Homo sapiens: one gene and its partner. The protein of the gene in region 2 interacts with the protein of the main gene of each other region in a biochemical or structural test. Each region holds a gene or a part of one and is shown on either strand. Other genes may lie near its edges. The genes, in order: HEATR5B and KDM8.

What was found.
Region 1: the proteins of KDM8 (region 2) and HEATR5B form a complex in vitro, tested with the Homo sapiens proteins (one study listed by BioGRID).

What each region holds. Positions count from the first base shown.
Region 1 is NC_000002.12:37,060,372-37,067,649, forward strand, and holds part of HEATR5B (HEAT repeat-containing protein 5B), read right to left. Parts: intron 5,540-7,278; coding exon 5,384-5,539; intron 4,620-5,383; coding exon 4,369-4,619; intron 1,680-4,368; coding exon 1,568-1,679; intron 363-1,567; coding exon 210-362; intron 1-209.
Region 2 is NC_000016.10:27,206,494-27,213,771, reverse strand, and holds part of KDM8 (bifunctional peptidase and arginyl-hydroxylase JMJD5), read right to left. Parts: intron 3,680-7,278; coding exon of another isoform or gene 3,649-3,679; coding exon 3,151-3,648; intron 2,627-3,150; exon of another isoform or gene 2,551-2,626; intron 188-2,550; coding exon 21-187; intron 1-20. UniProt on the Homo sapiens protein: Bifunctional enzyme that acts both as an endopeptidase and 2-oxoglutarate-dependent monooxygenase.

The DNA of each region.
Region 1 (7,278 bases), on a different chromosome or scaffold from region 2:
AACACTTTTTCAGAGTCTGGGTTTCATTTTTATTACAAAATTAGCAAACTGAAGTGGATCATTTATAAAGTTTCTATTTAAATCTAAAAGCCTATGAATTTATCATTACCTAGTAAAATAAAAAACTATAAAATAGTGATTTTTCTTTTACTTTACAAATATTTTAGTTATGTCATAATATTGTGAAGCACAATCCTTTCAGTTCTTACCACATAGAGCTCCAGCACGACCTTCCAAAGTTACCTGCCAGGTAAAAGAATCGCCTCGGGCCTTCTCAGCTTCCAATTCCTTTAAGGAACGTGGGAAAACATTTCGCCACAATAACAACATCTTGGGCAGATGGTAACGAACGACAGATGGTCCTAGCCAAGAAAATGAGAATACAAAACCATGTATATGTAACATACCTTACAAACAAGTGTCAAGCAAAATGAGCCCAACACAAACTTTATGTAATTTTAGAGATGAAAATAGAGTAAAATACTGATGTTTAACAATATCTGTTATTTCACTCTATTTTTATCTCTAAAATTACATTATTTTCAACCTTTATTCACTGATTAAAATATAGATCAAAGCATAACAAAATTCACCTTAAACTGTCAATATTTTTAGAATCCAAACATAAAATACACAAAAAGCAATTTTTAAAGGATAACCCAACTGTATTGAGAATGGTGGATTGCATATTATCAATAAAATATATCTGAGACACATTCTATGAGGTCTTTTTCATATACATATGTATATAAACAAATATACCCACTCACACACACATACAGATACATATTCCTTAGTTTTGGGGGCAATTTATGTGGTTAATTTAGTTTCATGGAAAGGCAATATATTCAGACCTAGGAATCTATATTTACATTGCTAAAAAATTCATTTAACATACCACTGAACATACTTAACATAAACTTCTGGAAATGAGTTGCAACTTTTTGTTTTCTTCAGAAAAGAAAAGTAGGTCAAAGTATAATTTCCAACAGATAGATGCTTAGATCTGTGTCATAACTTTGTAGTACATATATGCACACACTTTTTACAGCAGCAGCTAAACATATGAACTAAAATATGAACATACCCCATCACAATAATAGGTATTTTTGTACTATGTACAATGTTAAATTTTGCCTACAATGCAGATTTGTCACACTACTTAAGAGTGAAACACATTAAGGGTTACCCCAGAAAAGCAGCACTAACAATACCAATTAAATGTGACTTTACCACTCTTCTAAAATCACACTGCTGGTTTTCACTTAGGGTATGAAATTTTCCCTCATATTTTCATCTCTTTTAAACACTAAACTCATCAGGTAGACAAAGGTTATTCTGATGGTAAAGGTGAAACTTTGCTAACAACTTTCTCATTAAATGTACTTAAGCAATAATTACCAAAAAGAGAAATCTACTAGCAAATGACGAGGAAAACATCTTTACACCATTTTTACAACTTCAATGAAAATCCAGAATGTGAAGCTTAACACTTTTAAATTAAATTTGCTTTACAGGCTACTGACAGTTATAGCGTGACAAAAATCCTACTCAAATATAATTATACCTAAAGTCATAAGTGCTCCAAGTAAAAGCCAGCCAGCTTGGGTGCGCTGTAAAGATAGCCTGCTATTTTGGGCAGCAGTTCGTAAAAGATCTTCAGCAATACTAACTACCATCTGCAAGAAAAGTTTAGAATTGGATTTTAATTCAAACAAGTTAAATTAAATAAGGAAACAGATAACTAGCATACATTACTTAAAAGAAGTTGTTGGCTGGATGCGGTGGCTCATGCCTGTAATCCTAGCACTTTGGGAGGCTGAGGCAGGCAGATTGCCTGAGCTCAGGAGTTCAAAACCAGCCTGGGCAACACGGTGAAACCCTGTCTCTACCAAAAAATACAAAAAAATTAGCCAGGCATGGTGGTGGGCACCTGTAGTCCCAGCTATTTGGGAGGCTGAGGCAGGAGAATTGCTTGAACTGGGGAGGCGGAGGTTGCAGTGAGCAGAGATTGCACTACTGCACTCCAGCCTGGGTGACAGAGCGAGACTCCGTCTCCAAAAAAAAAAGAAGTTGTCCTCTCGTGTTATTAGCATGTTTTTGAAAGAGGCAACATCAAGACCTGGTTAGTCTTGATTGCACTGATGACTCTGAAGAGACCCAGAACAGTGTAGTAGTTAAGGACAAGCTCTAGGGCCAAATGCCATCTCTGCCATTTACTCGCATTCTCATTTAGCACTGCTTAGTTCCATCACTGGTAAAACAGAAATAATAGGAATGCCTATCTCAGCCTTGCAAGGATAAAATAAGTTAATACAGCATCTATGCTACTACTTTGTCATTTCATCATGTGACAAATCCACTTCTCATTTTTCCTGTGTCTTCTAAGACTGTAAGCTCCAAAAGATTAGCTTACTTATTTGTTTGTTTTTTAGAGACAGGGTTTCACTCTGTCACCCAGGCTGGGGTGCAGTGGCACAATCATAGCTCGGTGTAACCTGGAATTCCTGGGCTCAAGGGATCCTCCTACCTCAGCCTCCTGAGTAGGTAGGACTACAAGTGTATGCCAACATACTTGGAAAATTTTAAAAATTTCATTTTTTATTTTTTGTATGACAGGGTCTCACTATGTTTCCCAGGTTGGTCTCAAACTTCTGACCTAAAGTGATCCTCCAGCCTCGGCCTCCCTAGGCATTGGGATTACAGGTCTGAGCCACCACGCCCAGGCAAGGTTAGCTCAATGGTAGATGCATAATAGGAGTTCAACAAATCTTTGAATGTGGAATAATAGTGCTAATAATGACAGCATTTATTTAGTGGTCACATGGGCTAGCACTGTTCTCGGTACTTTGCTGTATTAACATCCACACAGAATGGCTAGTATAGACTTAAATTTGGTGCAGCTGAATAAGAGGGGAGATGAAACTCTAAGAGGTTAGCAGAGCAAAGGCTTCGAAGCTGAAAAAGGCCAGGGAAGGAAGGAAGATAACTAGTCTAATTAGAGCAACAGGAAATTTGAATGAACGGCGGAATGAAGTCAAATTATAAGATACCAGTTTACCAGACAAAGGAGATTATATTTTACTCTCTGAGTACTGGGTAGTCCCTAAGGGTCTCTGGGCAAATGTAAAATATGAAAGTGGTATGAGGAAGATGGGACGTGTGGGGAAGATGGAAAGTCTGAGGAAGATGAGAATGAGGAAGCAACGATATGACAAAGTGAGAGGGAAGTCTGGATTTCATCGGTAGCTATGCAACTGCTATGAATGGACATGGGCTTAATGTCCCAGAAAAAAAATCAAAATTTAAAACTCTAGCCCCAATCTGCCTATGTAAAGTTTCAAATAATATTTATATAAACACTTAAGATTACTGAGAAGAAAACCATGATAGTAGTATACAACAGAAAGAAAGGAGAAAAAAAAGCTACTCATATTTTTTATTTTATTTTATTTTTTGAGACGGAGTCTTTCTCTGTCACCCAGGCTGGAATGCAGTGGTGCAACCTCAGCTCACTGCAACCTCCGCCTCCTGGGTTCAAGTGATTCTCCTGCCTCAGCCTCCCAAGTAGCTGGGATTACAGGCATGGGCCACAATGCCCGGCTAATTTTTCTGTATTTTTAGTAGAGACAAGGTTTCACCATGTTAACCAGGCTGGTGTCAAACTCCTGATCTCAAATGATCCACCTGCCTCGGCCTCTCAAAGTGCTGGGATTACAGGTATGAGCCATCATGCCCGGCCATGATTTATTAAAACCACTCAATTTTTACTAAACATTATCAAAATGCTAAATATTACAATAGCGTATTATCCTGACATCTTTGAATATATAGCAATGTGAACTTTTATTTCTAAAAGCTGAAAGAAAAGCTCTGACTTTCAAATAATTACTATATCTAAGGTTGGGTTTTTTTTTTTTTTTTTTTTTGAGACAGGGTAGGTCTTGGTCTGTCACCCAGGCTGAAGGACAGTGGCATGTTCATAGCTCACTGTAACCTCAAACTCCTGGGCTCAAGTGATCCTTCCAACCCATCCTCCCCAGTAGCTAGGACCATGAAGTTGGCTAACTTTTTTTATTTTTTGTAATGATGGGGTCTCACTATGTTGCCTAGGCTGTTTTTTTTCTCTTTCCCTCTAAAATAAATTATAACATGTTACTAGACTTGGACAAAATCTATTATCCTTACATCAGAATTAAATATCAAATTATAATAGGGTCTGTTAACACCATAGTAAGAACACTATGTTTTATGATAACATAGTACAACTGTTATTTGACCACCCTGTTCAACACTAAACACAGCAGCGTTCCTATAAAGACCAAAGCCCACGTGACAGCATTCCCAAGTCTAGGATCTCCGTCATACCTTTCCTTTGGCATGAGGAATGCCCAAAGGACACTGATGTACTCCACCTAACAAAGCAGCCATTGCAAAACTATATCCACTGACAGCTTCTGGTGAGGTCTTCAAGTTGTTGAGCCGTTCTGCACACCTGTCTAGAAATGGTGTCAGCTGGAAAGGTAATGCCACAGCCACACAGCGCAAACACCATGCAGCAGCAAGTCGGGCAGCCATGCTTGGATGAAGCAGCACTGAAGTCACAATCTCCAAAAGCCCTAAACAAGAAATACTCAAAATATTACTCTTTAATGAAGTCAAATGATTTCAGAAACTCAAATACTATCTAAAAAACAATAACTGAAATGACAATCACCAAGCTTTCACACATATAGATCCACAACTTTGCCTAAAACTACATACAGTAGAGTACTTCAAAGGAACATTTTCTATGAAGAACATAGTACAATTATATTCAATATTGATGTAAAATTTAATAGAAGTCTTCAACAAATTTTAGTCAATTTTTATAAAAAAACTACCACAATTGCTTTTGATTTCTGTTCCAAAACTTTATTTAACCATTTAATTCAATATTCTTTACAAGGAAACTTTTTTTTTTTTTGAGACTCACTTTGTCCCCCAGGCTGGAATGCAGTGGCATGATTTCGGCTCACTGCAACCTATGCCTCCTGGGCTTAAGCAATTCTCCTGCCTCAGCCTCCCAAGTAGATTACAGGCACGTGTCACCACAGCTGGCTAATTTCTGTATTTTTAGTAGAGACAGACTTTCACCATGTTGACCAGGATGGTCTTGAACTCCCGATCTCAAGTGACCTGCCCACCAGGGCCTCCCAAAGTGCTAGGATTATAGGCACGAGCCACCACGCCCAGCCTATCACAATGAATATTAATTTAAGTAAAACCTGATGATCTGAAGTGCTAATGATGATGATAAGCAACTAATCAGGAATTAAATATCAATCACACTTATGACTGAAAAAAGTGGAAACACATACTAGCAAGTAACTGAATGTCATACCTATAGATGCTTCTTGAATAAGAGGGGATGCGGTGGCATTCAAGCTCTGCACCAGGCTCCCGAGTTCCTGGAGGGCACAGACCATCACATGCTGGCTTGCTGCAATGTCTGCTGCGCCAGATTTGTTTTCTCCACTTGTGTCATTCACTACTGCTTCTGGAAACACAAAATCATGTCTTTGACATAGGAGAAATGAATTGTGGTATGATTTTTTTGGTCTATACAATTTATGATTTTAGCCATACCAGTTGATGTCCGAGTGTTAAAAACTATGCAGTTATTTCTCAATAGAAAACTTGTAGAACTAAACACTGAAGTGACTTAAAAATGTTGTTTAATAGCTTTATAATAATGCTAAAATATATACTGAGATACATCTTTGCTTCCAGGAATACAACCTAATTTTAGCAAGCAGCAGCAATCCAGTGTATAAAAGCACAGATACTGCAGAAAGAAGACTCGGGTTCAAATCCCAATTCCACTAGTTATATTAGTTATGTGACATTGAGCAAGATGTTCAATTTTTCTGTCCCAATTTCCTTATCTGTTAATGGGCTTACATGCCTATTTCAAACGGTACTGTGGTGATTAAAAAGTCAGTGCATATAAAGAATTTAACACAATGCTGCCCATAATACACATTCAATAAATGTTAACAGCTATTATTACTTTATTACCATTGCTACTTTAAGTGTTCCAATATATTGGAGGTATCTGTTAAATTACTGACCAGAAAATGAATCTATAAGGAAAATGCCTTAAGTTACCTCTTACTGGAATGTTTCTGTAAGTTCCCATTAATTAACCTTGCTGCCTGCTACCCCAACCTTTTAGCTTCCACTAGAATCGAAATGTGTTTGACAAGAGACAACCAAAGATCGCTTGCCAAACTACTAATTGAGAATACATTCTGGCCCACAAATCCCCAATACGTATCATTATATTTAATTCTGCTTTCAGGATTTAAAAAAAAATCAAATAACGAATTTATGACCTTAACATTAAGAACCTTTAAATGATAGTAAAACTTTCTTTTTTGCATTCATTATTAATTAATAGACTATAAAATACATAATACAGACTAGGATATAATGGATTAATAAATTGAAGACTATAATTAAATTTTTTTTTTTGAGACAGAGTCTTGCTCTGTTGTCCAGGCTGGAGTGCGGTGGTGCCATCTCAGCTGACTACAACCTCTGCCTCCTGGGTTCAAGCAGTCCTCCCAACTCACCCTCCTGAGTAGCTGGGACTACAGGTGTACGCCACCACGCCTGATTAATTTTTGTATTTTTTAATAGAGACAGGGTTTCGCCATGTTGGGCAGGCTGTTTTTGAAGAACTCCTGGCCTCAAGTGATCCACCCATCTTGGCCTCCCAAAGTGCTGGGATTACAGGCATGAGCTACCATGCCTGGCCAAATAACTCTTGTTTTTAGGTATTTCTGGACTTGGAAATGCATAAACTCTAGCTTTTGATTGCTAAACTTTAAGCTCCCTGAGGATAGGTGCTGTATGCATCTGGCTTGCTATTTTACTCCCACCATTTGACGCGGTGTTTCTGGCACTAAACATTTCCTCAATGAATCAATGTGCAAATTATTCTTTAAGTTGTGAATCTAAGACAGATGACTATTTTAGCATATTTAAGGAATGATATCTCATTAATTTAAACACTTTAATTCACGATTCATAATTTTCAGTTAGCTCTATACATTTAAAACTAGTTTACTGGCTGGGCGTGGTGGCTCATACCTGTAATCCCAGCACTCTGGGAGGCCAAGGCAGGTGGATCACTTGAGGTCAGGAGTTTGAGACCAGCCTGGCCAATGTGGTGAAACCCTGTTTCTACTAAAAATACAAAAATTAGCAGGGTGTGTGGTGGCACACGCCTGT
Region 2 (7,278 bases):
CTCCCTCAGCGACCACCCACCTCCACTTCTGCATGCACGGCCAGTGGTCAGCCACGCCTTTCAGGATCACGGGCCTCCCTGGAACCAAAAACTGCTCCCTGAAATGCTGGAGGGACGGACGGTGCAGCCGGGGGACTGTTTTTTCTAACTTCACATCTGGAATCAAACCATGGTCCGCCCTTGCTTTCTGTTTAAAATCAAAACAGAACAAAATAGCAACCACCTCAGGAAGTCGACATTTGAGGTATTCCACCAGGAACCTGTGTCAGGGGTAGGAGAGCTTAGCTGTCAAGAGTACCAGTAACAACAATAGACAACGTTTGTTATTATTACTGCTACTATTACTATTTGCTCCTCATGAGATCAAGGTGGTTTTTTTCTTAACCATTTCATCAAAAATGTTTGTTTCATTATAAACTGCTTTCACAGACATTCTGCAATAAAGGAAAACTTACTATCTCCAACTTCACCATCTTAAGGTCTTCTCATTCCTATTCTTTTCCCATCTTACACACACACACACACACACACACACACACACACACACACACACGCAAAATATCTCTGACCCACTGGGAGTAACAGCAATGATGAAGCAGCAGCCCTGCCTCTCCCCTCCAATCATTTATCAAAAGCAGTTTCCACATGGCCACCCGGTCCTTACAGTTTCTTAGGAGTGGCTGCACCATCATTTCCTTAACCATCTCCCAGCTGGGTGACCTGAGTAAGTTACTTGCTGCTTGAGAACCTCAGTGTCCACAGGTGTGAACCTGCTGGGAAATGGCCAGCCACACTGGCTCATACCTGTAATCCCAGCACTTTGGGAGACCAAGGTGGAAGGACTGCTTGAGCCCAGGAGTTTGAAACGAGCCTGGGCAACATAGAGAAACCTCTGGCTCTAGAAAAAATTTAAAAAGCTCGGCGTGGTGGTACATGCCTGTAGTCCCAGCCACTCGGGAAGCTGAGGTAGGAGAAATCACCTAAGCCTAGGAGGTCGAGGCTGCAGTGAGCTATGTTTTATTTATTTATTTATTTATTGAGACCGAGTCTTGCTCTGTTGCCCAGGCTGGAGTGCGGTGGCACAATCTCGGCTCACTACAACCTCTGCCTCACGGGTTCAAACAATTCTCCTGCCTCAGCCTGCAGAGTAGCTGGGATTACAGGCATGTGCCAGGACGCCCAGCAAATTTTTGTATTTTTAGTAGATATGAGGTTTCACCATGTGGGCCAGGCTGGTCTCGAACTCTTGACCTCAGGTGATCTGCCGGCCTCAGCCTCCCAAAGTGCTGGGATTATAGGCGTGAGCCACCATGCCCGGCCTGCAGAGAGCTATGATTGTGCCACTGCACTCCAGCGTGGGTGACTGGGCAAGACCCTGTCTGTAAAAAAAATGAAACAAAAGAGCAACCCACACCCCATGCCCTTGGCCACATGGTGCCCTTGGCAACACCGGGTATCATATGAAGCCTTGTTTGCTAACTTAACAGCCAAAGATGAAATGCTGTTTTGCTATTTGCATCTCTCTCTTTTATTTTTTTAACCAGAGGTGAGGCTGAACATTCTCCTGCACATTTGTTTAACAGATCTATTTCCTTCTTGTGAACAGTCTGTTCAGGTTCCTGGATTTCTACCTCCTGGGGCTCAAGATTTTTTCCCTATTGATTTGTACCATTCCTTACGTAATAGAGATATTCATTGTCTGACATATTTGTGGAAAAATTTTCTTCTCCCTTTATTTGATTTTCTTTTATTTTGGTTACATGCCTGTGTGTTTAGTGTCAACCACTTGCATTTTTCTTATATAAAAATAATTTGTGGCTCACGCCTGTAATCCCAGCACTTAGGAGGCTGAGGTGGGTGGATCACCTGAGGTCCAGACAAGCCTGGCCAACATGGTGAAACCCTGTCTCTATTAAAAATACAAAAATTGCCGGGCGTGGTGGTGGGTGCCTATAATCCCAGCTACTTGGGAGACTGAGGCAGGAGAATCATTTGAACCTGGGAGGCAGAGGTTGCAGGGAGCTGAGATTGCGCCACTGCACTCCAGCCGGGGTGACAGAGTGAGACTCCGTCTCAAAAATAATAATAATAATAATATGCATTGTAGGAAATTCGGAAAACATAGCAAAGCATTTAGAAAAATGTCAGAAACATCCCATAATTCCACTACCAAGTGTCTAGTACAGTCTTAGTCATTTCTTTCTGTGGGTCAGTACTCTGCCACTCTACAGACAAGGAAACCGAGGCTCAAAGGAGGTTAAGTGACTTGCTTGGGTGTGTTGCAAGTGAGGCCTGTGTGTTGGCACCAGGACCTGAAGCCTTCAGAGTAAACCATGCTCTGTTCCTGGGGGTGCTCTTTGGAACAGGCACATAGACCCAAGGGGTGGGAGAGATTGACCCCAAAACAGACATCAGCTAGTTGTAGTATCTCATCCAAACCCAGGAGCAGAGAGACAGGAGCAGCTGGAGGTATCGCCTCGCCTGGGTGAGACTTCAGCAAGCCCACCAAGAAGCTGAAAGAAACGGGCTGCCGCTGGCTGCAGCTCTCACCCACACAATCGCTTTAAGCTGTTTCCCTCAGGAACCACGAAGTTTCTCTGCTGCCTCTCTGCTGAAAGGGCGCTGCCTTTGCAAAAAAAAAAAAAAAAAAGAGAGAAAATGAATGGAGCTGTTCCATTTCCAAAGTCAATGGGGGCTGAGCACGGTGGCTCACACCTGTAATCTCAGTGCTTCGGGAGGCCACGACAGGAGGACTGCTTTAGGCCAGGAGTTCCAGATTAGCCTGAGAAACATGAGACCCTATCTCTACAAAAAATAAAAAATAAATAAGAAACTAAAAAAATTAGCTGGGTGTGGTGCCATGCACCCATAGTTCCAGCTACTAAGGAGGCTGAGGCAGAAGGATTGCTTGAGTCCAGGAAGTGGAGGCTGCAAGGAGCCGAGATCACACTACTGCACTCCAGCCTGGGCGACAGAACGGGACCCTGCTTCCAAAAACAAACAGAAATCCAAAATCAATGGCAATGCTGTTTTCCACCAGAGGGGTTGCAGGCCACGAGGCCTCACCCCAGGGGAGAGATGACTCGGAATTTCTAGAACAACAGGGTTGCTGGATGGCTAGTGTGCTTGGGGAGAATCTCCCCCACATACCTTTGTGCAGGGTTGCTCTGGGAGGGAGCCACGGGCAGGCCTCTTTCCAGGGAGGTGTGTCTGGAGGATGGCAGCGACTTTAAGAAGGATGTCCCCCAGGATGGCTGCCCCCATCAGCAGGCCCATGTCACAGACCCGCAGGGCTGCGGCCACAGTGTTGGCATCCTCAGGTGCCTGGCACAGACACAGGGCTTTCAGGAGGCAGCCGATGGCGTAGACCCGGCGCCAGTCTTTGTCTACGTCCTGCCATGTGCCCGTGTTGAGCTTCTCCCAGGAGTAGTCCAGGATCACCTCGCTGCTCTGCAGACACTCGTCCCTCCTGCCCTCGTAGAAGAGCTCAGTGGCTCGCTGCAACAATGTCACCACGCTCCTCTCCACTTTCTCCCCGAGGTCCAACTTCAGGTCTTCTTTACTGTGCGGCAGGAGCGCCCTGAGGGCCTCCCATAAAGTGCCTTCTCTGGCCAGGGGCTCTGCGGGGCAGTGGGTGTCTCCAGCCATCGGGCCACCACCAGCTGGTTCAGTCCCGTGCCTGGGGAGGTGGAGAGAAACAAGAGTTAGACACCAGGACAGACCTGATCCCCTGTGCATTCCCGCAGCTTCCTGCATCTCATCTGCGAGGATTTTTCAACAGCAGTCTTCTCTGTTGGGCAGAAGCTCTGGAGGGGAGGGCCCTCATCTGTCTGGGGTCACCACTGTATCTTCAGGGCCTGGCGCAACACCTGGTACTCAGCAAGCACTGGATAAACGTCTGTTCAGAAAGGAACGTGTATTGTCCTCATCTGCAGTGCCTCCCATACCCCTCCGCTGCCTGGCAAACTCCTACCCAACCTTTAAAGCCCATCTTAAATATCCCTATGTGAGGCCTGCCAAGACTCTCCAACAGTGTTCTGTGTTCCTGCAGCCCTTGAGCTTCTCTTACAGTACTCGTCAGGATGTATGAAAACACCTGCTTACACGTGTGTCTATCCAACACTGCACTGCCAGCTCCACCAGGGCAAGAACGTAGCTCATTCCCCTACGTTTCCCAGAGCCTAAAAGCAGAGTCTGCCTCATGGCAGTCACTCAGGAGTGCCAGGCTTTGAAAAGTATTCGAGAAGGCCGGCATGGTGGCTCACGCCTGTAATCCCAGCACTTTGGGAGGCCGAGGCAATTGGATCACTTGAGCTCAGGAATTCAAGACCAGCCTGGCCAACATGGCAAGACGCCGTCTCTACAAAAAATACAAAAATTAGTTGGGCACGGCGGTACATGCCTGTGGTCCCAGCTACTCAGGAGATTAAAGGTGGTGGGATCACTTAAGCCTGGGGGCAAAGGTTGCAGTAAGCCGAGATCATGCCACCAGCCTGGGTGACAGAGCAAGATCCTGACTCAAATTAAAACAAAAAAACAAAAATGAAGTGACTTGCCCCAAGGCCTACGGTCAATCATTTGTGCAGAAGCAGGGCTTAAATTCTGGCTGATCTCAGCACCCTCTCCTGTGCGCCATGTCAATGCTGCATGCTTGACATAGATTAACACGTCCCTTGCAATCCTATGATGGGAGTTTTACAGATGAATAAACTGAGATTTCGAGGTTAAGCAATTTGTGCCAAACTACACAGTAAGTGGCAGTGTCTGCCCAGAACACTCATTGCCTTCAAGGGTGAGCTCTTTGGACTTTGTATCCACAGGGCTGAGCTTATAATGAGTTCATTTCCATTCTTGGTTCACAATGAACTTTCTTTCTAGCAAGCTCAGGGTATGGTAGGGCTCAGAGAGCCCCAGCCTGCCAGGGTGGGTTCTATCTCTAGCCTCCTAGAAGGCTTGTGTTGGCCTCATTCACAGCCTTCTTGGAGCGTTTCACAGTCCAATTTCCAGCATGGACTTATCCACTAGGCCAGCACAAGACACCACATGGGCCCATCCCTGGCCTCCCTGGGTGGCCTCCTGGCTCATCCCGTGTGTGGCTTACATGAATCTTATAGAGCAACATGGAGAAGTCTCATCTTGAGCATCCAAAAGACCTCAGGGGCCTCATATCCTGGCTTCTCATAAAGGCCAGTGGAAAGGCCTCCCAGGAGACCATTTATTGCCCTACTATAAAACTGGCTTCCACTGGGGCTCTATGTACCAGCTTTGTAAACCTGTCTCTTGATGGCCTTAGAAAACAGCCTCCCAGAGGGTTTCAAATGGGCTATAAACCTGTTCTCTGCAATGCAGATTACGGGCTTTGTAAATTGGTGTTTCAGGGTGACCTTATAAAACGGCCCCTCACAGGGCGCCTATCAGCCTTACCAAGCCAGCTTCTCAAGGTGGCCTCACGTGTGCGGCTTTGTAGCCAGGTTCCCCCAGTGGCCCCGTGTCTGCTTTGTCACCTGGCCTCCCAGGGTGGCCTCATGTTTGGTCTTCATAGGCGGCCTATCTGCTACTTTGCAAATCGGCCTTGGAGACCTCATGTTGAAGGCCAATGGACACAGCCTTCTGGGAAAGATGGCCTCCTAATACTGTGAGTTGGCTGTACAAAACTATCTGCTCTTGGCCACATGAAATAGCCTTATGATTATTCTTTAATGCAGAGTTCTTCAATGAACGGCCTTATCAAAAGGCCTTCAGAGATACTTACGTTGACAATATATGATGGTTTTCCAGAGACAGAGGCTTCAGGATGGCTGTATAAGTTTGTTTTCAAAATGGCTTTTCAGATTGCCTCTGTATAAGCCACTTGAAATGGCCTCCCCAAAGGCCTCAAGATTATTATACACTATCCCCCAGCAGGGCACCTATAATCCCAGCTACTCGGGAGTCTGAAACAGGAGGACTGCTTGAGCCCAAGAATTCGAGACCAGCCTGGGCAACATGTAAAGACCCTGTCTCTAAAAACAATTAAAAAATTAGTTAGCTGGTCATGGTGGCACACACCTGTAGCCCCAGCTACTCCGGGAGCTGAAGCAGGAAGATTGCTTGAGCTCAGGAGTTTAAGGCTGCAAGTGAACTGTGTTTGTGCCTCTGCACTCCCATCTGGGTGACAGAGTGAGACCCTGTTTCAAAAAATAAAACTATAGCCTCCTACAAGGCCTTATGTTGGCAGCATGGTGAAGTGGCATTCTGGCCGCATCAGTCTTCTGCCTTGTTGCATAGGCTTCCCCAAACCTCTCATGATTTGGCCTTTTATGTAGTTACCATATCAAACAGCCACATCCTGGTATAGGAAGCAGTCTTCCAAAGCAGTTTTGTGAGATGGAGTCTTGCTCTGTCACCCAGTCTGGAGTGCAGTGATGCGATCTCGGCTCACTGCAAACTCCACCTCCCAGGTTCAAGTGATTCTCCTGCCTCAGCCTCTGAGTAGCTGGGACCACAGGCACGCATGCCATCACGCCCGACTAATTTTTGTATTTTTAGTAGAGACGGGGTTTCGCCATGTTGGCCAGGCTGGTCTCCAACTCCTGACCACAAGTGATCCACCCACCTCAGCCTCCTAAAGTGCCGGGATTACAGGTGTGAGCCACCACGCCCGGCCCTTGTAACTTGTTTTAAAAACTGGCCTTCCTATAGATGGGGGCTTGTCTGAGGACCAGGTGAAGTCAGATTTTGTCTTAGTTTTACAAATCGATCTGTGGTTTCTTCATTGTGCCAGGAAAGAATTGTTTGTTGTGTCCATCTACCCCGCTGGGAGCAGCCTCACATTGGCTCCTGTTAGCCATGCAAAATGGCCTTACAGAAGGAGTCTTGGTCTGGCTGGGGAAACACTCTCTTGCTGGCTGTATGAAACAATCTTCCAGGGTCACTGGCCTCATGGGCTATGAGAAGCAGCCTTCACACCACCAACCACTTGAGATGGCCCTCCTGGGAAGGTCAGGTGCGAGCCACAGGTCACTGCCTTTCTGAATGGCCTCAGGTCCAGGCTCATCAGCCTTCTGGCATTTCCCATATACTGGTCTGATAAAAAGGCTTCTTGTTGTATCAAGAGGTTTTCTAGAGGAAAGGACTAGCCAGAGTAGCCTTATGGCCTGGCTTTATTGATTGGCTTCCCAGAACTCCTCACTGAATTGCTGTTTATAAAGTCTTATATTAAGGCCACGTGCATCGCTCACGCCTGTCATCCTAGCACTTTGGGAGGCTGAGGAGGGTGGATGACCTGAGGTCAGGAGC